Homo sapiens: one gene and its partners. The protein of the gene in region 7 purifies or fractionates together with the protein of the main gene of each other region. This does not show direct contact. Each region holds a gene or a part of one and is shown on either strand. Other genes may lie near its edges.

Evidence for each region.
Region 1: the proteins of TOR1AIP1 (region 7) and TOR1B purify together in Homo sapiens (co-immunoprecipitation; one study listed by IntAct). This does not show direct contact.
Region 2: the proteins of TOR1AIP1 (region 7) and NCAPD3 purify together in Homo sapiens (co-immunoprecipitation; one large-scale study listed by IntAct). This does not show direct contact.
Region 3: the proteins of TOR1AIP1 (region 7) and PDIA5 purify together in Homo sapiens (affinity purification with mass spectrometry; one large-scale study listed by BioGRID and IntAct). This does not show direct contact.
Region 4: the proteins of TOR1AIP1 (region 7) and CHCHD3 purify together in Homo sapiens (affinity purification with mass spectrometry; one large-scale study listed by BioGRID and IntAct). This does not show direct contact.
Region 5: the proteins of TOR1AIP1 (region 7) and PPM1A purify together in Homo sapiens (affinity purification with mass spectrometry; one large-scale study listed by BioGRID and IntAct). This does not show direct contact.
Region 6: the proteins of TOR1AIP1 (region 7) and ADPGK purify together in Homo sapiens (affinity purification with mass spectrometry; one large-scale study listed by BioGRID and IntAct). This does not show direct contact.

What each region holds. Positions count from the first base shown.
Region 1 is NC_000009.12:129,805,675-129,809,427, reverse strand, and holds part of TOR1B (torsin-1B isoform 1 precursor), read right to left. Parts: intron 2,241-3,753; coding exon 2,065-2,240; intron 524-2,064; coding exon 396-523; exon of another isoform or gene 360-395; intron 87-359; coding exon 1-86. UniProt on the Homo sapiens protein: May serve as a molecular chaperone assisting in the proper folding of secreted and/or membrane proteins. Plays a role in non-neural cells nuclear envelope and endoplasmic reticulum integrity. May have a redundant function with TOR1A in non-neural tissues.
Region 2 is NC_000011.10:134,202,808-134,207,261, reverse strand, and holds part of NCAPD3 (condensin-2 complex subunit D3), read left to right. Parts: intron 1-529; coding exon 530-663; intron 664-2,290; coding exon 2,291-2,363; intron 2,364-3,090; coding exon 3,091-3,216; intron 3,217-3,355; coding exon 3,356-3,608; intron 3,609-4,063; coding exon 4,064-4,120; intron 4,121-4,356; coding exon 4,357-4,446; intron 4,447-4,454.
Region 3 is NC_000003.12:123,118,623-123,123,076, reverse strand, and holds part of PDIA5 (protein disulfide-isomerase A5 precursor), read right to left. Parts: intron 1-4,454.
Region 4 is NC_000007.14:132,788,158-132,792,611, forward strand, and holds part of CHCHD3 (MICOS complex subunit MIC19), read right to left. Parts: intron 1-4,454. UniProt on the Homo sapiens protein: Component of the MICOS complex, a large protein complex of the mitochondrial inner membrane that plays crucial roles in the maintenance of crista junctions, inner membrane architecture, and formation of contact sites to the outer membrane.
Region 5 is NC_000014.9:60,283,408-60,287,861, reverse strand, and holds part of PPM1A (protein phosphatase 1A), read right to left. Parts: coding exon 4,325-4,454; intron 2,239-4,324; coding exon 2,121-2,238; coding exon of another isoform or gene 2,098-2,120; exon of another isoform or gene 1-2,097. UniProt on the Homo sapiens protein: Enzyme with a broad specificity. Negatively regulates TGF-beta signaling through dephosphorylating SMAD2 and SMAD3, resulting in their dissociation from SMAD4, nuclear export of the SMADs and termination of the TGF-beta-mediated signaling.
Region 6 is NC_000015.10:72,777,016-72,781,469, forward strand, and holds part of ADPGK (ADP-dependent glucokinase isoform 4 precursor), read right to left. Parts: intron 3,200-4,454; exon of another isoform or gene 3,182-3,199; intron 1-3,181. UniProt on the Homo sapiens protein: Catalyzes the phosphorylation of D-glucose to D-glucose 6-phosphate using ADP as the phosphate donor. GDP and CDP can replace ADP, but with reduced efficiency.
Region 7 is NC_000001.11:179,905,946-179,910,399, reverse strand, and holds part of TOR1AIP1 (torsin-1A-interacting protein 1), read right to left. Parts: intron 2,578-4,454; coding exon 2,536-2,577; intron 1,796-2,535; coding exon 1,727-1,795; intron 1-1,726. UniProt on the Homo sapiens protein: Required for nuclear membrane integrity. Induces TOR1A and TOR1B ATPase activity and is required for their location on the nuclear membrane. Binds to A- and B-type lamins. Possible role in membrane attachment and assembly of the nuclear lamina.

The DNA of each region.
Region 1 (3,753 bases), on a different chromosome or scaffold from region 7:
TTTCACATGTCTGTACTCCAAAGGCAGGAAGGGGATAAAGTAATCAATGAGGTTTTTGTCGATCAGTCCACTGTGCCACAGGCCACCTGCAGAACAAGACACAGCTGGGTTTCCTGCCACCACCGCCACCTGGCCAAGCTCCAGTCCCGACCCTCAGCACATTCCTCATGTCCGTACCCCTTGAGAGAGTCTCTTGTCAGTGTGCAACAAGCCCATGCAGGACTCAGCTGGACACTCACTCACTGGTTTCTAGCACAGTATGCCCTAAGAAAATTCCTGACTTTAGCAAAGTGAGGAAATCCAGTGGGATCCTGTGGCTTTGTGAAACACTCAATGAAAGAGCAGACGGCTCACTGCTGGACAGTTAAGGGGCTCCTTTACCCTGGTGGACTCACTGTGTTTATTATTGAAGACTCCGACAGACAGTACAGGTTCCAGGTCCTTCAGCTGAATGTCTTCCCTCTTTCTTCCGGCCCGCCAAAAGTCAAGAGCCGTCTTAGTTATAAGGTCCCCGCCTGCATTGCTGAGTTTGCCAGAGAAATAAAGATTAAAATCACATATTAAGACTTCTGTGTCTGCTGGGTGTGGTGGCTCATGCCTGTAATCCCAGCACTTTGGGAGGCCGAGGCAGGTAGATCACCTGAGGTCGGGAGTTCAAGGCCAGCCTGACCAACATAGAGTAACCCCATCTCTACTAAAAACACAAAAATTAGCCAGGCTAATGGTGGTGCATGCCTGTAATCCCAGCTACATGGGAGGCTGAGGTGGGAGAATCGTTTGAATCCGGGAGGTGGAGGTTGCAGCGAGCCGAGATCATGCCATTGCACTCCAGCCTGGGCAACAAAAATGAAACTCGGTCTCAAAAAAAAAAAAAAAAAAAAAAAGACTTCTGTGTCTTACCAAGAAATGAATCTGCTCTAAGTCTATTTTTCCTTTTGAGACACTCTGTCACGCAGGCTGGAGTGCAGTGGCGCAATATCAGCTCACTGCAACCTCCACCTTCCGGGTTCAAGTGATTCTTCTGCCTCAACCTCCTGAGTAGCTGGGATTACAGGCGCCTGCCACGACGCCCCTTCTAATTTTTGTATTTTTAGTAGACACGGGGTTTCACCATGTTGGCCAGCCTGGTCTTGAAATCCTGACCTCAAGTGATCTGCCCACCTTGGCCTCCCAAAGTGCTAGGATTACAGGTGTGAGCCACCACACCCGGCCGAAGATCTATTTTTCATCAAGGAATATTTACTGAGTGCTACTAGACAAAAAAGTGTGCTCTCATGGAACTTAAAGTGTTTATTCACAACTAGCTGGGATAATGCTATGGCCCTTTATAACCCTAAAAACCAACATGCACAGTTAATAAAATTAACTGTTTTCATTTCTGTTTCATTTTTAGGGTCGGGGTCTTGATTGTCACCCAGGCAGGAGTGCAGTGGTATGATCATAGCTCAATAAAACCTTGAACTCCTGGGCTCAACCAATCCTCCTGCCTCGACTTCCCCAGGAGCTGGGACTCCAGGCACATGCCACGATGCCCAGCTAAAATTGCCTGCTATCAGTGATTATTTCTTTTTTTTTTTTTTTTGAGACAGAGTCTCACTCTGTCACCCAGGCTGGAGTGCAGTGGTGTGATCCCGGCTCACTGCAAGCTCCGCCTCCCGGGTTCACGCCATTCTCTTGCCTCAGTCTCCCGAGTAGATGGGACTACAGGCGCCCGCCACCACGCCCGGCTAATTTTTGTATTTTTAGTAGAGACAGGGTTTCACCATGTTAGCCAGGATGGTCTCGATCTCCTGGTGATCCGCCCGCCATGGCCTCCCAAAGTGCTGGGATTACAGGTGTGAGCCACCGCGCCTGGCCCAGTGATTATTTCTTTAGTTCATTTCCACAACCCACACTGTGTGCCATGCTGAGACTGGCAAAGGAAAAGTAAAGCAGTAGGTAAGTGCCTTGTGCCAAGCAGGCACTTTCGTCCTGGTAAACAAAGTGCTGATGGTCCTCAGGACCTCATTTTATCATTGAGAGAATGAAGGGCTTGTGTGCCCCAAAAAACCGCCTCCCGCTGACCTGAGAAAGATGAAGATGGCTTTGCGGTAAGACACTCCGTCAACCTGCTCGTAGTAGTCTAGAAACGGCTTGATTGCGTCAATGATCCCGGGGTGCAATTTATCCATCTCGTCAAATATGAAAACAGAGTTCGCACATGCACTCACATTACCGCGGATCCACTTCTGTAACTGGTCCTGGACCAACCATGAAAGAAGAAACAGGATGCGAAGCTCAAAGGGTGCACCAAGAGGCGCGCAGGCTCCATCTGCTCCTCATGCACTGAAGGACGAGGTCAGAGCTCTTAGAATGGCACCCTCACCCCCACTCGCTAGGTAGCAGCTTTTCTAAAACCTTATCTCTAAAAAGTGGAAATTGGCAGAGATAGATGCTAAAATGCAGAGAAGTTTTTTCCTAACTCAAATGACTATTAAATCTGACTTTTTAAAGGTATAAGAGGTACAAGATCCGTGATTCTTTTCTTCTCTTTTTTGTCTTTGGAAACAGGGTCTCACTCTATCCCCCAGGCTGGTGTGTAGTGGCGTGATCTCAGCTCACTGCAACCTCTGCCTCTTGGGTTCAAGCGATTCCCCGGCCTCAGCCCCCCGTGTAGTTGGGACTACAGGCGCCCCGATCCCCTGCACCATGCCTGGCTAATTTTTGTATTTTTAGTAGAGACAGGGTTGTGCCATGTTGGCCAGGCTCGTCTCAAACTCCTGACCTCAGGTGATCCACCCACCTCACCCTCCCAAAGTGCTGAGATTACAGGAATGAGCCACCCGGCAAGATCCGTGAATATCATTCACTGCTAACGTAGCCATAGTTTTCATCTCTCTTGGACTACAATCTCAAGTTAGTACTATCAGACATACTGAGGAATAAGGAACTAGATCAAGACCTGCACAGTACACAGTGCCCCAGACCAACAGAGCTGACTCAATGACATTTCATGAAAAGCATCTGTTCCAGATGTTTTCTTCAAACAAACATAAAGACACTCAAGCAACAAGCCCTCAACCCCAAAGCGTGAAAGGCTATACCAGGAAACTCCCCCAGACATGCCCTCAACCATTTATATTACTCTGTTTCCGGAGATTTATGAAGAATGTAAAGAACAAGAAAATCCTTCCTTCCTTCCTTTTTAGCAGTCTTCCCTGTCTCACGTCAGTTTGTTGGGCAAACACTTCTACTTCCTTGTTCAGTTAAGTTTCTATTTCTTTCTTCAGTCCCCACCTAACAGGAGGAATTTTTTTTTTTTTTTTTTGAGATAGAGTCTTACTCTGTCGCCCAGACTGGAATGCAGTGACATGACCATGGTTCATTGTAGGCTCAGCCTCCCGGGCTCAAGCGATCCTCCCATCTCAGCCTCCCAAGTAGCTGGGACTACAGGTGCATGCCACTACACCTGGCTAATTTTTTTATTTTTTGTAGAGATGGAGTCTTGCTATGTTGCCAGTGGGAATGTTAACCTTGACAAGGACAACATTCATTTAAATGAGAACTAACCCTCCTAGACAACTTAATATAAAATGAATGTGGAAACAATATCTCAAAAGGAGAAACAGTCTCAAGGTTCAGTTCTTTGAGGCTTCCTTTGAAGAAAGCAATGCCAAGGACATGAAGGATGGGAGGAACAAAGGGAATAAAACCTGTTAAGGAGAAAAAAGACCTCTAGGCTACATTGCAAAGAGCAGAGGCAAAGCTGAGGCT
Region 2 (4,454 bases), on a different chromosome or scaffold from region 7:
AAATCTAGCTATGTAGATGAAAGTGCTTAATGCAATACCTACCACTTACTTGGTTTTCAGTAAATGTTTTATTTATTGGATGAATAAATTAATTAGTGACTATGTTATATGAGATAATATGTTGGAAAGTGCTTTGTAAACTGGAGGCAAAAAGCAGGTGTAAAGTATCGTTCTTTCCCCTTTTGAATAAGGGAACATTAGTAGCATTCTTTGCCCTATGTAAATGACAGTTAATTCCCTATTTGTCCTAAATTCTGGGTTATGATATGCAAAGGGTGGGGAGAGAAACTAGGTATTGTTTTTATCAGACATATCATCTGTCAGCCATTCTTTCACACTGTTTACATTGTGCATTTATTGTATCCCTGCTCATTGTTTAAGAAATATATCCCTAGTGTTCAGCCAGCAATTATGCCAGCCTGACCTACCTTCAGATGGCTTGAAATGGTTTACTACAGTCTGCATCACTATGTCTGAGACCCTTGTGTTCTCCATCCGATCTTAAATTGAATTTTCTTTTCTCTTCTAGGTCATCAGTTGTGTTTTCCATCAAATGCTCAGTGTAATATTAATGTTAGAAGTTGGTGAAGGATCCCATCGTGCCCCCCTTGCTGTTACCTCCCAAGTCATCAACTGTAGAAACCAGGCGGTCCAGTTTATCAGGTGAAGCACACAAATCGTGAATTTTCACCCTGTCAGTCTCCCTCAGTACTCTGGGCCCTGCACTAAGATTTCTGATACATGTAGACTTAAAATTTCTGGCCTGATGGTGGTTTTGGGGGTGAAAACCAAGCACTTCGTAGCTAATGTGCTTTATGTGTCTGGGTCTCTGTTGGTAGGCTCCCAGCTGGGGCACTGTTAAAGAGATAGGAATCTGCAGAACACGGGCCAGCGCCAGCCTCCAGCTTGTTTGCGCTCAATATGTGGGTCAGCCTCAGAGAGAGGATGGTGGCCTCTCCTCCTTTCCCTTGTCTGCTTCATTGCAGCCAGTTCACCTCTTTCCCTTTTCTGTTGCTCTCTACTTTGCAGCTCTTTGCTTTTGTTCTTTGCCACTTTCTTCTTGTTTCTTTGCACTTTTCTATTCCTTTCCCTCTGTAGAAATGACTTGAAGGAAAGGATTGAGTTGCTTTTTACCTCCGTAGCAATAAGTGTTAGACTACTTTTCCTCTCATGGGTCACTCAGCTTCACTTAAAAACTCTCATGCCTTAGTTTCACTGGCAAGGACATGTTTGCTGCGTTGTTGGCTTTTCCTTCCCTCCTTCACTGATTTTTGGCGTGCAGTGTGGAGGTGGTGCCGAGACATGGTGTGCATGTGCAAGTGTGTGCATGCCTTGGGTGTGCACAGTGTGCAGGGTAGTTGGAGACATGGGGTGTGTATGACGTCATCTTGTGACTGAGCAAATGTCTCTCACTAAGGACTTTTTAAAACATTAAGTAACTAAAATGTTTTAAGTGAAAACACGATCGTTTCGTTTTTTCCATGAGAGTTTCTCATATGCCAGTCGCAATAGTCTTCATGTAATGTTACAGATAAACATCACTAAAAATGGATCAAGTCTGGGCATTGTAGAAATTTCTTCTTGAGGCGGGGCGCGGTGGCACATGCCTGTAATCCCAGCACTTTGGGAGGCCGAGGCGGGCGGATCACCTGAGGTCAGGAGTTGAAGACGAGCCTGGCCAACATGGTGAAACCCTGTCTCTACTAAAAAATACAGAAACTAGGCGTGGTGGCGGGCACCTGTAATCCCAGCTACTCGGGAGGCTGAGGCAGGAGAAACTCTTGAACCCGGTGGGGGAAGTTGCAGTGAGCCGAGATCACACCATTGCGCTCCAGCCTGAGCGACAAGAGCAAAACTCCATCTACAAAAAAAAAAAAAAGAAATTTCTTATTGGGTTAAAGTTTGGAGAAGTAATGTTACTAATGCATTTCACTGAGCTACCATGAGGTGGTACTGTGTCTTAGTCAATTTTTATATTTATCCCCAAAGGATATATTTTACATCTTCATATGAAATTTAGTAAGTAGTCAAAAGAATTGTATGAAGATTACATTTTTGTTCTTACCTGATGACTTAGCTACTCTGCAGCAGCTCTCAAAACTGCACGGGAACTACTTCACAGTTTTCTACGATGACATTTTATGTCTTCACTCTTCATTCTACTGAAACCACTCTTATAGCGTGAGGTAGAGTGTTTTAATAACTAGGATTTCTAAATATAGGAGTAGTGGTTTTTGGGGACAGTCGCTGACTGTATTGTGAACAGTAGATGTGTTTTTCTTTTACAAAGCGCCCTTGTGGATGAATTAAAGGAGAGTATATTCCCAGTCGTCCGTATCTTACTGCAGCACATCTGTGCCAAGGTACTGTTTGCCTTAGTAATATTAATAACATGGAAGTATATCGTGTGTGAAGATAAATGTGTGTGTGTGTGTGTGAGTGTGGGTATTTGTTCTTGGGAATGAGTGTGCATTGTTACTTAAAGTGGTTTTATTTAATGTTCACTAGATGGTCCCCTAGACAAAAGTGTTCTATAAAAAACAAAAAAACAAAAAAACTTTGTTTTGGAAAAATGTTGAACATACACACAGAAACAGGGAAAATAGGCTGGTGAACCACCACATACCCATCACCGAGTTCCACAGTTTTGTGTCACTTAAACCCCTACCCCACATCCCCCAACATGTGTATACTGGATTGTGTTTTGAAGCAAATTCCATCATATCCTTTCACGGTAATTCCTTAATATTATCAAACATCCAGTGTTCAAATTTCCATGATGATCTCTACATTTTTATAACCATTTAGACAAATGATTCTTAATTTGAACCTTATGAAACCTGGGGATCTAAAAACTCTCTGAAATTGTATACTAAATTTGTATGTGCATTTTTCTGGAGAGATGGTTTATAGATTTCCTTTAGATTAGTTTTGAAGTGTTCTAAAACCTAAAATTTATTAGTCATTTACGTAACATTTAAAGGTCATTGAACTAGTTGTACTCACTGACTTTCAACTTATATTACAGAATATGTTTCAGCCATCCTGCGGGTGGATATTGGTTGGTCAACTTCTCTTTTTGCTTTTCAGGTGGTAGATAAATCAGAGTATCGTACTTTTGCAGCCCAGTCCCTAGTCCAGCTGCTCAGTAAACTTCCTTGTGGGGAATACGCTATGTTCATTGCCTGGCTTTACAAATACTCCCGAAGTTCCAAGGTAGGAGATAGCTCTGCATAAAACCTTGGGTCCTTTTTAAACTCTTTTTAAAAGGGTCTCTTTTTCTAGGTCTGAATGAGGAGGGTTCTTTGGTTCTTACTCCTATCTGATGGCAATTCTTATGATCTTGCTTTACCAGATCCCACACCGGGTTTTTACTCTTGATGTTGTCTTAGCTCTGTTAGAACTGCCTGAAAGAGAGGTGGATAACACCCTCTCCTTGGAGCATCAGAAGTTCTTAAAGCATAAGTTCCTGGTGCAGGAAATTATGTTTGATCGTTGCTTAGACAAGGCGCCTACTGTCCGCAGCAAGGCACTGTCCAGCTTTGCACACTGTCTGGAGTTGACTGTTACCAGTGCGTCGGAGAGTATCCTGGAGCTCCTGATTAACAGTGAGTATGGCGACTATTGGGACAGTAAACCGGTCTTGTGCTCATTGAGAAATAGACTGCAAGGGAATCGTTCTTTTCTGTGGCAAAAGTAATAGGTATGGCATGATCTATTTTTACTCTCAAAACCATTTTTAGTATATTTTCTTGCCAAATAACTTTTTAAATAGGCAAGCCTGATACATTTGCAAGGCCTTTTAAAAGTATTTCAGATGTTCATATCTGAGAGGTGACATTGGTGGCTACCTTTACTGTTGCTTTGCATTGGTGGGCATTGGTCGTATTAGGATGAATCTCCGTTTCAATGCATACCCAAGGAGAACGTTATCAGTTGTCAGCAATTTAGAATCTGTCTGCCTTGTCTTTGAGCCTAATTATCTTGATTTTGATTCCTCCGTGGATAATTACTCAGTTTATGATACTGACTTCTTCCTTCTTATCTTTCTTCTTGTTTTTAGGTCCTACGTTTTCTGTAATAGAGAGTCACCCTGGTACCTTACTGAGAAATTCATCAGGTAATGGATCAATACATTTTCAAATATTGAATGATTATCTTTTAAAAATTTGTGGAATATTTAAAATGTTTTTCTTACCTCCTTATTTACCTGCTTTAACATTGTACTTTTTTCATGAGAGAGGTTGAAATTCATTTCAGTAATAATGTTGTAACTTAAATGAGTAACATGCCCTGCTAATGTTATTAAAAGTATAACACATTTTTAGCTTAATGACTGTAATTTTTTTTTTAAAGCTTTTTCCTACCAAAGGCAGACATCTAACCGTTCCGAACCCTCAGGGGAGATCAACATAGACAGCAGTGGTGAAACAGTTGGATCTGGAGGTATGTCA
Region 3 (4,454 bases), on a different chromosome or scaffold from region 7:
CTTCCAACTCCTGGGCTCAAGCGATCCTCCCACTTCAACCTCCCAAAGCACTGGAATTACAGGCATGAGCCAGCATGCCCAGCCAGGACTTTGAATCTGTTCTTACCAGAGAACACAGCTAGAATGGCCCGACACACAAAGGTTGTTCCACAAAGCAGAGTGGCATAGAAGCGAGGGAAAAGTAAGTAAAAAAAGCCAGCAGTAGTTACAGAAGCAGAGAGAAGAAACCCAGGAAGCTGAACTTTACTGAATAATACATAAGGACACAGAGAGAGAGGAAAATAAATAACCGTTTCAGTGGACAATAAATTGATTGCAAAGACAGCTTCCACTTATGAGTCATGTGACCTTGGGCAAGTCACTCACCCTCACTGAGGTCCCTTGCTGGAAGATGTGACCATCAAAGGGCTCTTTAGAGAACTAAATGAGATGAGAGGTTTTAGCACAAAACTGGAGCTCAGTAACTGTCATCTTCCTACCAAGTCTTCCTGGTGATGGGAGCCACTGTGCCTCTGGCCTCTCCATTCCTAGGGGCACCTGGATATCTTTCCAATTGTTTTAAGTCCCTAGCACAAGGCCTCACATACAGCAAGGACACAATAAATGCTCACTAAATTCACTGTTTTTTTTTTCCTAGCCCATTTTAGGATGCAGCAAATAATACAGGAAGAATAAATTTGAATTCGAATTTACTTGAAGCCCTGGAACGCTCTATAAAAGTCATTCTGCTCATTTCCCAGACTGCTCCAGCGGCCTGTTCCAGTAATATTTGTCTTCTTTAAAAGTCCTTTTTTTTTCTGCCTAATTGATCTCCCCAGTGTCAGTGCACATTCACCACAGATTAATCTTACACGTCCTCCTCGCTCATTACATCACTTCCCTGCACAAAACCTTCCAATTCCATTGAATATAGGCTAAAATCCAGCTCCACATTCAATGCCCATATGTTACCTATTTCATTTTTGAATCTTTCTTTCTTACAAAACTCTTCATTGTACACCTGTTAGGGTCTAGATTTTTTATTCTCCCAGGAATAAGACAGTCTGAGATTTCTGCACAGGAAGGAAGTTGGACTGTCTGCCTTCTCAGACATCTTGCTGAGTGCAGCAGCAACATGCAGTGGCTGGAAGCATGGACTCAGGATGCCTGGGTTTGAGTCCCAACTCCCCATGGGGTCGCGCATTTCCTTGAATGAGTCACAGTTGTCTCTGCGTCTCACTTTCCTCATCTGCAGCCACCTCATGTGGTTGTTGAGAAGATTCAATGAAATAATACAAGATAATCAATAACACAAAATGTATTAGCTATTTTTGTTACTAGGACTAGGAGGTGCTCTATTTCTGCCCACACTTCTGGAACACTCGCTGTTCTCTCCTGGCCCCCACTTGGTGCCTTCCAGTCCCCTTACTGAGGCTGCCCATCCCCCGCCTCCTGGCGACCCTCCAGACTCACCCATCCCTTAAGGCAAATCAAACCTCACGTCTCTGGGCAGCCTTTGCAAACCACCTTCGCTTGGGGTGAGCTCTTAATTCTCCAAGTTTCTGTAGCACTTTTGTGCCATTTTGGGGGCATCTATTAGTTAATGAGGCAAAAATTTTTGAAAAACTACATACAAACACTTTCTGGAGTTAGAATTTGTGAAGTCAAATGAGGTGACACACCTGGTCTCGGCCTGTGGAGAAGATAAGAACACAGCCTCCCTGCTCCCCACTGCCATCTGCATGCTTGGGGCCACTCAGCTGGCGTGACATGCTCTTCTGTGTGTTCAGCCCTGCTGCCAGGAACCATCACGGCAGCTTCTTAGCGTGGGCTGCATGTGAGCTTGCACTCAGAGGAGAGTAAGATTTCAACAGACGTCCCGGGATGGGGAACTGGAGGCAAGGCAAAGAAAGATGTGGCCCAAGAAATGGAGCACATTTCCATCTAACTGGAAGGCAGGATACACAGAAAGGAGAAGACATGAAAGAAAAGGCTGAGTGAGTTGGCCAGGATCACTTTGGGAAAGGCTTGAAATACCTAAGAAATCGGGACTGTATTCAGGAAGTGACGGAGAGCTCCCGAGGGTTTCTAAGTAAGAAAGCAACCCTCAAACCAGTTGTATCTCTCGAAGCAGAAAGGACGAGCTATGAGGGAATGCTGTGGTCAGGAGACAAGTCAGCAGCCTTTGGCCACCAGCTAGCATAGCCCACTGGACAGGGCTGGTGGGCAGGGAGAGGATGAAGGGTGCATGAGGAAGATGCCTGATGATGCCTCAGTAAAGAGAGGTGGAGGTGGGGGGTGGGGAAAGAGCCTGGCCCCTGGGGAAAGGACTTAATGCAAAGTTCACAGTCTGCCAGATGGAAAGATACTGAATTTTCAGACATGCATTTGAGACACAAGGGAAAAAATCCAGATGGAGCTGTGAAGCAAGCCATCTGACACGTGGCACTGGCACTTAGGGGAAGGACTTGGGCTCCATGGAGCTACGTTTTGTTGAAGCTATGGACAGAGATGTGGTCACTGGAAGGTAGACTGTAATAAGACAAAACCTTGCTCCAATGTGTTAACAGGAAAGCGGAACCTTGGGAGCACCCCCATCTAGCCGGTGGAAGGAATGTGGTGCAGGGCAGCTGTAGGGAAGAGAGGGGATCAGTCATCTGTGTCTATGAGTGCTCTGTGGGGTACAGGGCTTCTTCCACACAGCCCATTTGTTCCTCACCACAACCCAGTGTGGGCAGGGTTGGCATTATCATCTCCATTTTACAGATGGAGAAATGGAGGCTCCAAGGCTAAGGAGCTTGGACCAAGATCTCCCAGCTGGTTAGCAAGAGCCAGCACTAGAGCCTGGTCTGTACAAATCTGTCGTCATGATGGTTCTATTTCATGGTGTTTATACCCAGACTGGCCCATCATGGCCGAGGTCCACCAAAGACTAGGCAAAGCTCAAAGGCTCAGTGCAGATGTCAATAACTGGCAAGGCTGGGAAGAGGCAGATGGAGACAGGGCTCATTCTGATGGCTGCTCTGAGATGGGGGCAGCGTGGCTGCTAATGAGGATGTCAATTAGCAGGAGTAGATGGGACAGACGCGATGAGTCACCAGACGTCAATGACAGCACAAAAGAGGCAGCTGTAAGTTTGGAAATGGCAAAGGCTGTGCATCCCTGACCTGGCATGCCTTCCTTCCTAATGATGTCAATCAGGTTGAACACCTCCCAAAAAATCTGTAGAGGAGGAAGATTTTTGACCCTTGCCAGAGACAGACCCAGCCAAAAAGGCTCAAAGATGACAGAGATGAAGAAGTGACAGAAGGCCCTAATCCAGCTGTGTTTCAGCAGCGAGGAGGGGGTGAACTTTGATTTCTGGGGAATAGCAGCCCATTTATTAGTCCCACCTCTTTTCTGTGTGTGAAGACAAAAAGCAATTGACACCTGTGGTCACTCAACCCCTCCAGCCAGGTCCCCAGTTTCTGGGGAGCTGCCCCTGCAGAGTAAGCCCTAGCCTCTAGGGGCCTCCTGCGTGGGTGATGCGTGCAGCGGCCAGGGCCCTTCCCTCTTTATGTAGCTGGGAAAGGGCTAGAACTTTCCAGAAGATGCTTTTCTAGGAAATGAAAGGGAAAATAGAACAAAACAAACCCCAAGCAAGAAAATATACAAACAAAGAAATGAGTTTACACAACCCAGATGTCTTAGGCCAAGGCAGCCAACACCTGGTCACAGCTTGACTTGCCCAGCTTTGCAGACAACGCCCCTGACTTTTCTGTAATGTTGAGGGAACTGGAATGGGTAACTTTTATATTTCTAGACCTGGGCCCAGGCAGAAGAAGCTGGAATTCATTTTTTCTTTTTTTTAGAGACAGGATCTCACTCTGTTGTGCAGAGCATGGTGCAATCATAGCTCCCTGCAGCCTTAAACTCCTGGGCTCAAGTGATCCTCCCACCTCAGCCTCCCAAGTAGCTAGCATTGACTACAGGTGTATGCCATTGCACCCAGCTAATTTTTAAAATTTTTTGTAGACATGGGGTTTCACTATGTTGCCCAGGCTGGTATCTAGCTCCTGGCCTCAAGTGATCCTCCCACTTTGGCCTCCCAAAGCACTGGGATTACAGGCATGAACCACCATGCCCTGCTGGAAGCTTATATTCTGAACACGAGTGGTCTTTGCAGTTAACCTTATAACCTGTCCCACAAATGTCCTTCCCACTATGCTTCCGGCCTTAATAACAAATGCTCTGAATTCCTTTAAAAGAGAGGACCATCACTTTTAATATAGAGCTTAAAATAAAACATACCCCCAGGAGTGATGAGCAAAAACCCTATTCATTCATCGGCATATACTGGATATCTACTGTGAGCTTAGCCCTGTGCTATGTGCTAAAGAAATAGACATGAACACAACTCCTGTGCCCAAGAAACTCACATATCATAATTAGTATCAAGTGCTGAACAAAGTGATCTGGAACAAAAGCAAAGATGA
Region 4 (4,454 bases), on a different chromosome or scaffold from region 7:
TATAGACAACCTCACTACATCATGCTTTATTAAATACAAAATGGAAGCCAGTATCAAGCAGATCTATACTGAGCCTATCTAAGGGAATGCAGTTACTAGAGAAAGTGATCTCTTTATAAATGATGCCACTTAGCCATTTGCATTTGGGGGGGTTATAGATTCACTGCTTTCTTCAACACACTGATGGGAGCTTTGAGTTGTCATCTGCCTGGTCAAGATTACATAGCTGTACCCCTCTCTACAATTTTGGGCTTAGGGTTACAAGGATAACCACATGACAATGTACCTCCTTTCAAATATTGCAAAATAACCTGCAGCTGCCACAACTTAAGGAAAGCAACAGTTAAAGAGTGTTTTCACGAGTCTAGAGATTGTTTTTACTATTCTCTCTGCAACCTCAACCAAATATAGATGGGTAATTTTTCAGCCAAATCATATCATGCTAAGAATGTTAGGCTCTCTTTCAGAAAGAGACAAGATGGGGCCTGGCTGGTCTGAGGATGAGCAGGCCAGTCTCACATAAAGACACTAAAAGAAGTAACATTTTAATAACCCCTTTAGCCACATTCACAAAATACCGTTACATGTATTAAAATTCTAATCCTCCAAGATAGCACAGTGGTTCAGCTGATTTGTGGTGACTCCTTGAAGACATGTGGGACCACCACAGAAAAGCACCAGGGCTGATCTATAAACATTTTGTCAAACTGCACTCACTTGCTACCAAAGGGTGGCAGGGGTGGTACAAAACCATCTCAATTCTATCAGGGAAATTAACAAACACAATGGCAGGCTGGATTTTTAAAAAAGATGAATTCATCTGTCAAACATTTTGGGTTATTATTATATTCCAGCTATGCGACAAAACCTGCTCCAACTCAGAACTCAGGGCTTTTGGCTGGAGGGATCCGTAGTCTGGTGGGGTCTGTGTTATTCAGCTTTCACCTTATAGGTTCTACTGTCTCTGTATTGGTTCCGTAAGTACTGCTGTTGGGCTGAATTTCAACGCTGCATAAATTTAACACTGCATAAATTAACATAGGAAATTCCCTAAAGAATGAGGGAGAAGCTTTGCAAGTTATAAAAAATTGCTTCCTTCATTTAAGGAACTGCTAACACTTAATCTTAATGTGGAGAAAGAAATTCCTTGCTTTTGCTCATCATTCACGTATCTGGGCCTGCAGAAACTCCTTTTATAAACAGCTGGGTAAATCACCAAAAGAAGAGAGTGGTTCAGGCATGAACACTGCTCTTTTCCCAAGTCTTTTTCTCATTCCAGCCACTGAAGAACAACCGGCAGCTCACAAATAAGAACAGCGCCCCTGGAGACCTGAGATTGCGTGTCATTTCCGCTTATTAAAACCTTACTAACCATCCTAACCGCTTGCCTCAAATATTTCTGTTAAGCAGTAATCTCATCAACTGATTTTTGAATCACAGCTTTCTTGGAGGGGTTGACTATCATAGCAGCATGCCAGCTACTGGTTGTGTTGATAATTTAAGAGAAATGATGGCAACCCTGGGTTGCTAACCAATCATCATGAAGAGAAGAAAAGCGGTTTGTTTTTTAAGATACCACTCAGGGTGCTTGTCTCTGGATGAACTTACCCAGCGCCTCACCAAGACTTCAGGCCTCATAAAGCTGGGTAGAGAAGCAGGAAGGTCTACCTAACCAAGGAAAAATGAAACTGGAGATGTGTCCTGGCACAGACCTGGTCTTAAGACACGAGTTTTACTAAGGAGGGTCAGGAAAAGTGGGGAGTGGGAGACACTGGAGCTTCGATGAGGAAAAAGCCAGAATGAGAAGACTGTGCATAAGACAGGAAGGAAAAGTCATCTATAAATTGAATTTATGGGAAGCACAAAGCGAGTTTTGCCTGTGCACCAAGTACTGTTCTTCACTACCTGGAAATCTGATTAGATCACTTATTTTGTTTTCAATATGTGTCTATTCCCCTGCAGCAAGAGCTGTTTGTTCTTTGTTCCTCCTGCTTTGGAGGAAATAGAAGTTAACTTTTTTCTGCCTGGATCTTGTTTTATATCTTCTATGACAAATGCTCTGTATAATATTCAAATTAAGTTACAAGTAATTAACTGTTTATACAGCTGGCTGCAATAACAGACAAAACACTAACATACTGCAGTTCTAATTGAAGGATGACCATGGGAAAAGAAATACCTATTAAGAAAAATGAAAATCTATTACCATGGTAGTATTTCTTCTATTAAACTCAGATTTAAAAAAAGAGAAAATGTCACGAAGCAACGATTACTCTCAGAAAGTGGTTTAGAAAAGGATTCCTATGATGGAAGAGGTTGGGATAGGAAATTTAAAGTTTGGAATTTTGTTTGCTTTGATCTGACTCTAAATTCAAAGGGCTGCCCTACCAAAAAAATGGGAAATCTATTATGAAATACCCACGTGTCAGTCACCCTGTGACCAGCATCCCAGCTGGGCAATTAATAAATGTCATCAAGCGATAATGATAAAGCAGCTTTCGAACACAATAAAAACATGCTCCTGGGGGGCTTCCCAGAAAGTTAACCTTCTTGATTATCTTCGTGCTCTCTGAAAGTGGCCACCGTGTACATCGGGGGGACCCTGATGTGGGTCGGGGAGAGAAGCAGGGTGACTGGGAGCAGTAGAACCAAGGGAGGGTCTGGTCACAGCTGTGAGCTAGCCAGGGGACTGGGGTCACCTACTGTTTCAATGGGAGCAAGAGAAGAGGGGAAGGGGATCTCTTTTCAAGGCTTCCATCTGATTCCCACATCATCTTCCAATTTGTTCTTAAGGCTAAAGATTCATTCCTAGGGTTGGTCTGATGAGACCTCTGCCAGGTAGCTTTGACCTATAGGGAGTGATAGCTCCCCATCTCCCAAAAGATGGAAAACAAGGACTTGGCAGGACCTCTGAAAGGTCAAAGACCTTTAATGCAATTCAGGCCAATGGGCTCTAAGAGCAATGGTTTTCAAACTTTGGGTACAGAGTCTCCTGGGAAATTTGGTCAAAGTTCAGATGCCCAGGCCTCACCCCAGACCTTCTGAATCAGAATCTCCAGGGATGGGGATTGGGTGGGTACATTTTAAGCAAACCCCTCAGGGGATTCTGATGCTCACCCACATCTGAGATCTGACACGACAGGAAAAATACCCTGGTTTTGAATTTAAGAGTGGGCTGTTTGGTCTGGGTTCTGCCCTTCTACAGATCATTTAAATTCTCTGGAAGCTAATTTTGCACATGAAAAAAATGAGGTTGGGTTATATGATCTCTAGGGTCCTTTTAGCTCCAACAGCCTATAAGTCTATTAAATCATTTGCATCTAATGTAGAGTTCATCTGAAAACAATGATAACATACAGCTTGCTCTGGCAATAGGTTTTTCTTTCAAGAACCTTGATTTTTAAGCAAAAGCTACTACTATGTTTTCAGGACCCCTTCATACTCAAAATATGTCACAGACTTAGGAGCAGAATCCTGGTCTAATATAAATACAGTTCACCGGGGAGATGAAATTGTCCTTCAGAAGGCGGACAGAAATTGTGCCAGGGCAAATTCCTCCATATGCACTGATCTTGAGGCTTTGACTTAGGAAGCCAACCAAATACTGGAGATGTCAATGATATTTTAGAAACGAGACAACGGGGTGCACTAGCCTTAAGTTGGAGAGCTGTCACATTAGGATCTAGCCTCATTTACTGGGTCCTGACCCCAAGTTCCTCACTGTGGCCAGGTTCCTTTCTGATCTCTCCAAAGAGATCAGCAGGAAGCATGTAGGTCTGAGGTGGGGCTGTCTCATTTACAAGACGTCCTTATTGTGAGCTGAACTAACTGTTTGCGTGGCTACTGTCCCACTGCCTGCTTACTGACTGAAACTTCTGCTATGGTTTGGGGGACCCCTGACAGACTCATCATCTAACTGCAGGTCCCACACTGACCTCTGTCCCTTGGGCATCTCCTGGGGTTGGTCCTTGCCTCTGGTCCCAGTTTGCCCTTGGTTGTCAGGCTCCAGGTTCCTGGCTTCCTGCTCTGTTTTCAGAGTCACACTTCCCATGGTACTTCACAGGATGAAAGGCATCACGATCCAGGGGAGGCTTACGGCTGGCTGGAGGGAGCCTGCATTTTCTAATGGCCTTTATTAGCCGGCAGGGTACATTCTGCCAGCCAGTGCAGAGACAGCTGTTTTTCACTTCACTGACTTTGGAGAAACTGTGAAACTGTTTCTATTCCCTCCCAGTTCTTTCTGCCACCTTGGCTTCCCCAGGGCTGTCAGGAGTGTGAACCTCAAAGAAAGGGTACGTAGCAGTGGGAGGCCAGGCAGCAGCAGACCAATCAGAAATGCAAGTGTTCTTCTTGAGTGAACGTTTAAGGTGGACAGCAAAATTTAAGAGGCGAAGGCACAAATACTGGAGGTCTCAAAAGGAGAGGTGCTGCTTGTACCAAATAGGCCATGTCTC
Region 5 (4,454 bases), on a different chromosome or scaffold from region 7:
TTTAAAGCTAAGGTAGTCAGTAGCAAAGATTTTGAAAATATATACACAAAAGTATAATTTTAAATTGGCTTAGAAGGACCACAAAATTAATAGTAGTATAAATTATGAGCTGAATCTTTTCACACCCCCAGAGAGTCAAGTATTTAGAAGGGAACAAATAAGAGAAAAGGAGAGCTGGAAGGCCTTTGTCCTTTTCTATGGTGTGGACAGAGAAGCCAAAAATGTTCCAAGCAAATAAAATGAGGTTTAGTAGGTCACAGCAATCTAGTGAAGGCATGTATTTAAAGAAAGAAGAGAGAGAGAAAAGAAAAAGGCATTCAGGTGCCTGCTTTGGAAGCTGAAGGCAGTATTTTTCACTGAGGACACACAACTTTTACAATACAAACAGTTACATTCTATGTTTTAAAATAGCAGCAATTTTAATGTAATATTTATTCTCTAGTTGCAGTCTCATCAAATCTGAGTAAAAAATACCATATTTAATTTATGACAATCTCCAATTGAATGGTACAAGTATAATAACACTTTAACATATCAAAAATATTGAGTATCAATGTAAACTCTGTCCAGGTGGCAACTCTTGCTTGATAATAAGAAATATAAAACTTATTATTGTAACAAAATAACGTAAAGTGAATATTTCATAATTCCATCTAAAACTTAAAGTGTACACACTAAAGAGAAAAGTAGCAATTCATTTCTAAAATTGGATCCCATTTCATAGTAAAAATATTAAAATACTTATTACTTCTTTAAACCAATAAGAAAACATGTCTGCCCAAGTTAAAGTGCCAATACATTAAATATCAACTTATCCCTATACATATTATTCTTATGAATTTAAATTTTCCCATGAATCAATAGTTTGAACCAATGATTGTAGCATTCTAAATATTTTAAAATTGTACTATACCTATAAATAACTTATATTGAATGATTAATTTAAAATATAAAAATTCCAAGACCCTTGGTAACAGTAAGGAGACAAATTCGTTGAATAGTACGTCCAATGAATGCAATACTAAATAGTACAAACACATACTAGATGTATGACTATCAAGTGGCGGACAGCAATAAAAACAAAATAGTAGCTCTAGACAGTACTAAAGAACAAAACCAATCATGATTCTAGTATCAGACTGATTATGATTGGTATCAAACAGTAAAAAGGGGAAAAAAAATTAAAGTGAGTAGTAATTTCAATAATGCAGGCACAGTGGGATGTAGGTGTGGTAGGTCAATGCTTGCATGCGATTAGAGGTCTTTAACGTGCAAATTAACGACATTAGGAGCCTAAAATGCATTTTAACGCTATTTTTAAAATTTTTTTCTTGTTTTTTTTCTACCTCAGCTCACCAGCATTTTCATGTTTTAACACTATTAAAGTCATGTCAAGTTTTTCCACTTAGAGAAACTGCATAATATATACACTTTACTGCATATATGCAATAAACTGGAAGTCTCTGCAGAATTATGAGAAATATACTCCAGAAATGCTCAACTTATTTCTTAATCTTACTTGGCAGTTACTTTTCTGCCAGGTGGAGAAATATTATGTCTTTTATTGAGGTCTATCTTGTTTAGGTGAGACAGTTTATGGCTTAGGGAAGAAGCTCTGAAACAGTTTAAAGCAAATTTTTTAAAGCTGTGTATATAAAGTTGCTAATGATGAGGCTGTGATTTTCAAGTTATTGAAAAAAGGCCCTAGAGATTAAAATTAATATACACAGCTTTTCATAGAAAGATGGTATTCAAATTATCACCATCACAATCTCTTTGTAATTAAATAGACCACAAATCAGATTTTCCCGGCATAAAATTACTCATGCCAGTGAATTCATTAAGAATTTTAAAGCACACAAACATTTTAGCCTTTTAAAACAAAAGTATCCTGAACAGAATGTGGGTTACTTTCCACACTAGTTGTTATTTCTAATATAACTGTGATAGGACAACTGCATACATCTTAACAGCTACTACAGAAATGTCCTTTTCCACTTTCATACACTAGACACTAGCTGTCAAAGACACATAAAAATCTAAAAGCTAAAATGTTAAAGTTTGATTGTGTTGAAGATTTTTCTTTAATAAAGCTACTTATTTTTTGTTAAATGATCCACCTTCTACTCTGCATTCCAGGTACTTGTCCAACTCTGCCTCCTTCTTCACTGCTTCTGGCGATACTTTGGGTGCATTTGGAAAACAGATCAAAATCACACTCATGTTGTCTCGACTTCCCTGGGAAGAAAAAAATTTGAGAATATTTTAGTTTTCTTTTTGCTCTTCAAAGCCTTGAGAACCTTTACAGCTGTGCCAATTACAGTTATACTTGTTCTAGTGAAAATGTTACTTTCAGGGAGAAAAAAATACATATGTGCACGCATGCGTGCGTGTGTGTGTGCAATGACTCCCCCTCCCCCGAACAGTATAGAGAGAATACAGTATAACCAATACTCCAAAAGACAGGAGAGAAACATTACAGGTTAATCTCACTGTAATAATAATTTTTTATAATTCTATAAAACAATACTATTTCTAAACATTTACTGGTGACTTAATTTGAAGTGATACCTAATACAAATATACATGTGTACACACACTCCTTCCATACAACATGACAGAAAATTTTAGTGGCATTGTTTACAATAGGATTTGACCTGTAGTTATATGTACCTGATAAAATTACCTTTAAAATAAATTATAAATTGTGGGGCTAATACATTCGCTTCATAAGTAGAAATATGAAATAAGAGGTAAAACTACCTAAGGTTTATAAACCAGCTTTTAACTTGTATTAATTTTAAAAACTGACAACTTTTAGGAACTACATTCATTTTTAAAGACATCTAAGTATTCAAATGCTATAATTAAATATTTGAGTATCAAATATATACCCTCAGAAGAATTTTAAAAAGTCAACATTTGTTTAAAAAAACATCAAAGAATAAGTTAATAAGCATTATTGACAAAACAGAACAGAGTGTGGCAGAAAGAACACTGAACCCAAGTCAAGGGCCTTGATTTTCTAGTCTTAATGCTGTTAGCAATGTATAAAACCCTGTACACGTCATTTATAATATCTGTAGGAAAGGGTGTAGCATGTATTATATGCTAAACTAGGCATTATATATATATATATGTATATATATATATACACACACACATATATATATATATACATACGCTCATTAATTCCTCAACAGTCTTTTTTTTTTTTTTTGAGACGGAGTCTCGCTCTGTCGCCCAGGCTGGAGTGCAGTGGCGCGATCTCGGCTCACTGCAAGCTCCGCCTCCCGGGTTCACGCCATTCTCCTGCCTCAGCCTCCCGCGTAGCTGGGACTACAGGCGCCCGCCACCACACCCGGCTAATTTTTTGTGTTTTTTAGTAGAGACGGGGTTTCACTGTGTTAGCCAGGATGGTCTCGATCTCCTGACCTCGTGATCCGCCCACCTCGGCCTCCCAAAGTGCTGGGATTACAGGCGTGAGCCACCGCGCCCGGCAACAGTCTTATAAGATACTATTATCTCCATTTTAAAGCTGAGAGAGGTTGAACAATTCGTTCAGGAATGTAGAGTACAAAACTAATAGAGGTAAGCCTTGGTCTCAGGTCTGTCTGACTCTTAAGTTTGTAGAACCTTCTCTGGCTTCAGCTTCCTCATCTGTAAAATAAAGGGGCTGAGCTAGCTCACCTGTGTATATTATCCCATTTGATCCTCCTGACAACGCCATGAGACAAGATAATAATGTCTTATCCTTTTTATGATGAAAAAAACTGATTAGAGTTTAAATAGCTTACCTAAAACCATACACAGTCTCAGAGCAAGTTCTTCTGACTCCATGTACAAGGCTATTTCTATTACATCACGTCTAATGATCACTACATTCCTCTTTCAAGTGCTACAGACCATTAAACCTTAGTTTCAAAGGATTAGGATATCATAAATGTACTGAGATATCACATGGTCAAATATTAAAACTCTAAAATGCTTTTCATTTATAGACACTGAGGCCTAACCCTCCCCACCCTCTTTCTTTCAAAACATGCACTCTGATAAAATCTTTTTACCTTTGATAATCTTCCACATTATTACAAAGCTCAAGTAGTAAGACTAAACATTCAGCTTATAACTCTTGCAGAGATGGTAATTGGGTAATTTATTTCTACATAGTGGTCCTATGATATATTTTCATAATTGGTGAACAGTATCCTACAGTTGTGCCAAAAACTGGTTTCAGAATTACAGATTCTAAGATGATTAAATACTAGAGTAGTGATTAATATGGCATAAAATCATTTTATGTTTTTAAAAAAAGTCTAGCTACCTTATACAAACAGGTGTCGACTACTTCATTGCAAACTTTCTCAAGGTCATCAGTGACTTCAAGTCTGGATCTTACAAAATCACAGAGCTCTTCATTTCCCATAACATCCCAGATACCATCACATGCAAGG
Region 6 (4,454 bases), on a different chromosome or scaffold from region 7:
CACACACAGAAGGGGCCATTCTGGACATGCACGTGGCAGTTGCTTAAAGATATGTTTAAAATCTTTCCTTTCACAACCTTCAATGTTAAGAAACCAAACACACCTTGCAAACTGGTCTCAATTTTACCTCAGACATGGTGCCCTTTATTTCTAATGAATGCAACATTAGATTGGTAGAATCAACAGGAATACAAGTATCTGTAGCTCTCAGACGCCAGTAGGTTCCTAAGTTTCAGACAGTGAGGGCTTGAGTAAGGAGGGATACCATTTCCTCCAGACAGCCCAGTCTAAAAAAATTGTATCCAAATGGATTTGGGTCCCGAGTCTGAAGAGTAAAGGTTCAGAAATGGAGGGAAACCTGTCTTTGAAAATAACTACTTCAAAAACTATAAACACCCTCAAGCCTGTAATCCCAGCACTTTGGGAGACCGAGGCAGGTGGATCATGAGGTCAGGAGTTTGAGACCAGCCTGGCCAAGATGGTGAAACTCCATCTCTAATGAAAACACAAAAATTAGCTGGGTGTGGTGGTGGACACCTGTAATCCCAGCTACTTGGGAGGCTGAGGCAGGAGAATCGCTTGAACCCGGGAGGTGGAGGTTGCAGTGAGCTGAGATCGTGCCATGGTACTCCAGCCTGGGCAACAGAGCAAGACTCCATCTCAAAAACAAAACAAAACAAAACAAAACTATAAACACCCCACTCTCCATATCTAGTACTGCTGAGATTTTAAACAGTCTGACTCCTTAAAATGAGAATGGGGAAAGCTGTTCAGTATATTTTGTAACACAAGGCAAAACCCAACAGAACTAATTTTGAGTTACAAAATATCACTATCATGGAACATTTTCCATCCCTCACCTAATCATACCAGGAATACCGGGGGAAAATAACCAGTTTTTCAGACTGGTTCACAGTTTACTTGATAACTTTTTATAATTAAAAAAAACCAGGCTGAGCACGGTGGCTCACACTTGTAACCCCAGCACTTTGGGAGGCCAAGGCGGGTGGATCACTTGAGCCTAGGAGTTCCAGACCAGCCTGAGCAATATAGCAAGACCCCGTCTCTACAAAAAATACAAAAATTACCTGGGTGTGGTGGTGCACACCTGTAGCCCCAGCTACTCAGGAAGCTGAGGCAGGAGGATCACTTGAGCCTGGGAGGCAGAGGTTGCAGTGAACCAAGATGGCACCACTGCTCTTCAGCCTGGGTGAGAGAGCAAGACCCTGTCTCAAAAAAACACTGAACATCTACTACATGCCGGATGCCAAACAAGTACTTTACATGTACTTTCTTGTTCTGTTTTATAATACTTTAACCAGAATAAGAATCTTTCTCTGCACTTTCTCAACTCAATAGCATCCCAAAATGTAAAAAGCATATTACCTAAGGGGCTGTATTGTCAAGGGGAAATAAAGGGAGACACAGTTAAAGAATCAGAAGACAAAATTATGCTCATCTGACATGCAAGCAGAAGCTCACACTTCAGTAAAAAATGTATATTAGATGACTGTGATTTTGGAGAAAACACAGATGAAACAACTAGAAAATAGGTCAAGACAACAGATGCTGAATGTCAAAATGGGTTGGGGGGCTGGCAAAGAGGGCACAGTTCTCCCTTCTAGACCATAAGTGCCTCTAAGGCAAAGACGATGTTTCCTATCTCCTCCCTTCTGTTTCATCACCTGTAAAATGTTTTCTAAGGTTTTCTCTAGCTTTACATTATGTGCATCAGCTGTTATAAGAGCTAATCGTAATTGTTAAGACATAGAACTGTAAAGAGGCGGGGGAAAAATGGCTAGGGCAGTGGTCCCTGTGCTGAACCCTAGCTCCTGCATCTAGATAGAAGAAAGGCGGCTGATCTTTAAGAAGCACCCCACGCTAGGCAGGCATTTTCAGATAGATTAAACCTATTTGCAAAATGCGGTAAGATCGCTAATTAGTCATCACTGCTTTCAGCTGAGAAGAGTGAGGCCATGGATTAACTAACATTCCAAAGCCCACAGACAGGCAGAGCTGAAATTCAAACCCAGATTTATCTGATGATACTGAAACCCACGTAGGAAGTATACACAAGCAAAGTTGTACATGAAGGGATTAACCTTGTGTTTGGATACAATAAAGAATTATCTAGCTAGAATGGAGAATTCATACAGGGGAGAAGACCAAGATATGTTTCAAGGTTCAGGGTGAAGCCAGTTCCAGGGGCAATAAATATTAGCATGAGGGTTTTTTTTTTTTTTTTTTTTTGAGATAGAGTCTCACTCTTGTTGCCCAGGCTGGAATGCAACGGCGCGATCTCGGCTCACCGCAACCTCTGCCTCCTGGGTTGAAGCGATTCTCCTGCCTCAGCCTCCTGAGAAGCTGGGATTACAGAAATGCATCACCACGCCTAATTTTTTTATTTTTAGTAGAGATGGGGTTTCTCCATGTTGGTCAAGCTGGTCTCGAACTCCTGACCTCAGGTGATCCACCCACCTCAGCCTCCCAAAGTGCTGGGATTACAGGCGTGAGCCACCATGCCTGCCGGGTTTCATCATTTTTAAACCAATGAATAGGTACCAGAGTCTGATTTAGAAGCAGGGGAAGTTTCCTAGAAACGCCTTAAAACTCCTCCTATCCTTTACTTCTTTGACCCCTTTTCACCAGCCCCTTAATGCACTAGCATTTAAGGGCTAGTGCCTCCCAGAATTCCACCTTTACCATTTTTACCTTCTCCTCTTCTCTTCCTGGGTGATCCTATCCAGTCTCTGGCTTCAACCTAAGTGCCAGTGTCTCCAAAATTTGCAATCCTGTTTCTCAATATATTCCTAAAAACCAGCTTCTCATTTTCAGTAGCTGACAGAGAAGCTTCATCTGAAATCCCATAACAATGTATGTACATTTCTCCTCCTCTGAAATCCAATTTATCTTCTGAAACTTGTTTTTCTTAAATCTCTCTTAATGGCAACAACATGGCATCAACAAGGAACCAGAAATGGGAAAGACCAGGCTTCAATTGCTCCTCTGGCACTTGATAGCTACAAGATCTTGGGCAAATAAATCAATGTGAGAAGACTCGGTGACAATATCTGTTATCTGCCTCCCTCATAAAGTTGTTGCATTAGTCAATTTTCATAATGCTATAATGAATTGCCCGGGACTGGGTAATTTATAAAGGAAAGAGGTTTAATTGACTTACAGTTCAGCATGGCTGGGAAGGCCTCAGGAAACTTACATTCATGGTGGAAGGTGAAGGGGAAGCAAGGCACCTTCTTCTTAAGGTGTCAGGAAGGAGCCGTGCCGAGTGAATAGCAGGGAAGAGCCCCTTATAAAACCAAAGGATCTCATGAGAACGAACTCACTATCAGGAGAACAGAATGGGGGAACCGCCCCCATGATTCAATTACCTCCACCTGGTCTCTCCCTTGATTAGCTTATGGGGATTACAATTCAAGATGAGATTTGAGTGGGGACACAAAGCCTAACCATATTAGTTGTTATAAGATATTTAATACTGGGCTGGGTGTGGAATCACAGCTGTAATTCCAGCACTTTCAGAGGCCAAGATGGGAGGCCAAGGCCTGATCCCAGTAGTTGAAGACCAGCCTGAGCAACTTGGCAAATCCTGTCCCTACCAAGAATATAAAAATTAGCCGGGTGTGGTGGTACATGCCTGTAGTTCCAGCTACTCGGGACACTGAGCATGACAGGTCAAGGCCACAGTGAGCTTGAACATGCCACTGCACACGCCAGCCTGGGTGACAGAGTGAGATGCTGTCTCAAACAGAAAACAAAAACTAAACAAGATATCCAATATTAAAAACCTGTCGTTTTTGACTGCCTTTCTTTACTCCACCACATCCAAACTATTATTCAGGTTATCTCTCAAATCTCACCTCTTCTACATCATTGCCGAGTTTGGTTCGGGCTCCTTTCTCCCTTTACACAAACCCTACAATGGCCTCTTAAACCAGTGTCAGGATGTCAAGATATTCCTCCTTATGAATCACATTAAATGGCATTTTGAGTGTGTCTGTGTGACAGAGAGTGTGAATACGAGTGTGTCTCTAGAGAAGTCAAACTACAACCTCAAAATGAGATTCTGATACAAGTACTACACCTGCTCCCCCTCATCCCTCCTATATCCCCCTATCTTTGGGCTAAAAATCCTCTTTGGGTAATAAATGATGAGAAGCAGTGAAACAGTTTAGAACCACTGCTCAAAATCCACCCTTCACATTCCCACCAATTCTCAACAAAGAACTTGTCATCAGTTAACTACTTACAAACCTTTATGGCTTCCCCATAAAAGGCCCTTCACAATCTGGTCCAACCCTTCGTTCTCAGCATCATCTCTTTACAACCCTCTACCATAGGATTCTCGCTCCAAAACAAGGCCGACCTGTTCCCAAACAAACCATGTACTTTTTCACATTTGGTTCTCTTGCCTAGGTGGACCTGTTCCCACTTTG
Region 7 (4,454 bases):
AAAAGCAGAGCCACGCATGTCATTTGGTCCAATTACAGTTAATCATCCCATGAGCAAGAGATATAAGATGTGGATTTTTACATTACCTAAATAAAAGTAAGAGAATACCTGATGACCTCAAGACCTATTGTGGTTAGATGAGTAAAGTAGGGAGGTTAAAGGTCACTTAAGGCAGAGAATATGCATGGACTTTAAAAAAATATGGTCGAGATTTAACGTGGACGCATTTCCATAGAAATTATAGAAAGTGAGTTCAAAGTACGATGGTTTTATCACATCAATTTATAGTATTCCTTAAATTCTGTGACATTTAATCCATCCAAAACCTAAACATGAGGCTGGGTGTGGTGGCTCATGCCTGTAATCCCAACACTTTGGGAGGCTGAAGCAGGCGGATCACTTGAGGTCAGCAGTTCAAGACCAACCTGGCCAACATGGCGAAACCCCGTCTCTACTAAAAGTACAAATATTAGCTGGGCATGGTGGCGCATGCATGCAAGTCCCAGCTACTTAGGAGGCTAAGGCACAAGAATGACCTGAATGTGGGAGGCGGAGGCTGCAGTGAGCTGAGATTGTGCCACTGCACTCCAACCTGGGCGACAGAGGGAGACTTCATCTCAAAAAAAACCCAAAACAAAACAAAACACCCCCAAAAACCCAGAAAGGCTGGGCGCAGTGGCTCAAGCCTGTAATCCCAGCATTCAGGGAGGCCAAGGCAGGCAGATCATGAGGTCAGGAGTTCAAGACCAGCCTGACCAATATGGTGAAACCCTGTCTCTACTAAAAATATAAAAATTAGCCAGGCGTGTAACAATACAAAAATTAGCTGGGTGTGGTGGTACGCGCCTGTAGTCCTGGCTACTTGGGAGGCTGAGGCAGGAGAATTGCTTGAACCCGGGAGGCAGAGGTTGCAGTGAACTGAGGTTGCACCACTGTACTCCAGCCTGGGCAACACAGCAAGACTCCATCTCAAAAACAAAACAAAACAAAACAAAACAAAACAAAACAAAACAAAAAACAGAAAAAAAACCCTAAACATGAAAATATAACTTGTGCATTTCAGCCTTTATTATGTAAAATTATGAGTATACAAAGCTGTTCCAAAATCTGCTAAAAGCAAAAAATAAGTATTGTCAAAAGAGTAGAATTTCATTATTGTATACAGACTGTATTGCTGCTATAACTGACAGCTTGTTAAAATCCATCAATCTCTGGTTTTCTCTTTTTTTTTCTTTTTTTCAGATGGAGTCTCGCTCTGTCGCCCAGGCTGGAGTGCAGTGGTGCAATCTTGGCTCACTGCAAGCTCCGCCTCCTGGGTTCACACCATTCTCCTGCTTCAGCCTCCCGAGTAGCCTCCCGCCGCCACGCCCAGCTAATTTTTCTTTTTTAAATATTTTTAGTAGAGACGAGGTTTCACCGTGTTAGCCAGGATGGTCTCGATCTCCTGACCTCGTGATCCACCCACCTCGGCCTCCCAAAGTGCTGGGATTACAGGCGTGAGCCACCGCACCTGGCCAATCTCTGGTTTTCTCACGCCACTATTTACATTCTACACCCAGCCCATGTGCTGCCAGTCCAAGAAATTACTAAACTAGTAATCATAGCTGTACTTTATTAGTGAAATCACAAACAACCTAAATGTTTATCTGAAGAACTAAATATTTTTGTCAAGAAAAACATAGCAAATACACAAGATTATTTCAATAACAGAGATTTATCTACTTACTTTGCATCCTGGTCCTTATTCTTGCAGTTTGTGGGGCCCATTCCTGGGGAGTTTTTTGATATCCTGAGCCTGAAGCAAATACATATATCAAAAGATAATTTCCCATACTTTGAAAGTTTATACCATATTCCAGTGTTATAAAATTAATCTATCAGAAAGACAAAATAAAGTAGGGGAAGAAAACAATAAAAGCAATAGTTTTATAAGTAAAAGATAATTTCAAAGGATCGTATCAGTGAGGATGAACCACTTCCTACAGCAAAGCAGGTAGCAAATAAATATATTATCACATAATACAAATTACTTGTGGTAAAATAGCCCTGAACACATTTCCATATCACAGAGTAATTATTATAGGTAGTACCAATCCGTGGTGAATTAAAAAGGTAAAGAGGGGTAAAATGACTTAAAATCTTATTACAACTTTTGTTGGGAGAATAAGGCAAGGTTAGAATTGATTGACTGAGGCTGGGTGCGGTGGCTCACACCTGTAATTCCAGCACTTTGGGAGGCCGAGGCAGGTGGATCATGAGGTCAGGAGATCAAGACCATCCTGGCTAACACAGTGAAACACCGTCTCTACTAAAAATACAAAAAATTAGCCGGGCGTGGTGGCGGGCGCCTGTAGTCCCAGCTACTTGGGAGGCGGAGGCAGGAGAATCGCGTGAACCCAGGAGGTGGAGCTTGCAATGAGCCCAGATTGCACTCCAGCCTGGGCGACAGAGCAAGACATCGTCTCAAAAAAAAAAAAAAAAAAAAAGAGAAAAGAATTGATTGGCTGAAAAAAGAGCAGACAACCAACTACTTACTTAGCACTGAAGGTTGCTTATCATGAGCTGTGAAGTTTTGACCTGAAACAGAAAACAGGGATAAGGTCATAGAATACTTGAAAATAACAACAAAAAAGATGTTGCACAGACATTTTGCTTGTTTACTGTGGATACTAAAAACAAACAACAGACAAAAAACATTCTCTCATCAATTCCAAGCATATAAATATATAAAGTATATATATATAAAAAACATACATATACTATATATATACATATATATACATATATATATATATATATATATATAAAGTGTGTGTGTATTTCTTTCCCCCTCATTTCTAAACTTCAAAATGTTTAGGAATTGGGCAACAATAAGGAGTTAGTTTAGGATCAGTACCATCAAAATAAAAACTACATATAGTCATATATATCAAGTATAATTTTGTTTAATTCTTTTTTTTTTTTTTTTTTTGAGACAGGGTCTGACTCTGTCACCCAGGCTGGAATGCAGTGGCACAATCTCAGCTCACTGCAACCTCCGCTTCCCAGGTTCAAGATATTCTCCTGCCTCACCTTCCCAAGTACTTGGGATTACAGGTGTGCACCACCATGCCTGACCAAATTTTTTGTCTTTTTAGTAGAGACAGGGTTTCCCCATGTTGGCCAGGCTGGTCTCAAACTCCTGACCAGGGTTTCACCATGTTGGCCAGGCTGGTCTCAAATTCCTGACCTCAAATGCTCTGCCTGCCTCGCCCTCCCAAAGTGCTGGGATTACAGGCATGAGCCACCATGCCCAGCCAATTTTGCTTAATTCTTATGTGGTAGATGCTATTACTGTTCGTATTTTATAAATAAGGGAAAATCAGCTGGATGCGGTGGCTCATGCCTGTAATCCTAGCACTTTGGGAGGCCAAGGCAGGTGGATCATGAGGTCAGGAGATCGAGACCATCCTGGCTAACACGGTGAAACCCCGTCTCTACTAAATATATAAAAAATTAGCCAGGCGTGGTGGTGGGCGCCTGTAGTCCCAGCTACTCGGGAGGCTGAGGCAGAAGAAGGGCGTGAACCTGGGAGGCGGAGCTTGCAGTGAGCTGAGATCACACCACTGCACTCCTGCCTGGGCGACAGAGCGAGACTCTGTCTCAAAAAAAAAAAAGGGGGGGGGGGAACCAAAATTGGTAATTTTTCCAAAATTATATATCTAAAAGTAGTTGGGCTGAGATACAAATCCAGGCAGTCCATATCATATACCACATACCATACCATAAAGAAATGGTATGTACTATCTATGCAGATTTATGGACATTGCAAAGTAGCTATGAAGTAAAACATGCTACTTCAGGTTTTGAGGTGGTATTTAAGGATAACTGTAAAATGACACAATGGGATGACTAAAAAATGACATTACAATTATAACAAGGTAAATTTTCAAATCTGCCCTGAGAAAATGAGTTACTCTTTGATGATAAATACAAGTATCGATTTACATTTATTTATTTTCAACTTTTTCTGAATACAAACATGTGCTAGCTGTTTAAAAAAAGGGGCCATTCTAGAAATGCTTAATTTAAAAATTCATGAATATCTATCTGTTAAGTATCTACTATGTGCAAAACATTGAACATAGAAATATTATGGTAAATAAGACAGATATTCTCTCAGCTTTGTTTTCAGCCTATACTAAAAATATACTTTTAAAAAAGTGGATACATACGTTTTAATATTTTCATCAAATTCTAAGACATACTTTTTAAAAAATGCCCTTTGATCTACAGATATATCTTTTAATTAATGGTATGGCATAGTTTAACTGGATGGTTTTTCTTTCTCATTGATACATAAAATCAATAGTATCTTAAAGTCAATGAAATATATCTTGATCAACTTTTCATTAGGATACAATGAACTAACTCATTTTTCATTTCTAAATAGTATTTCTTTTTTTTTGAGATGG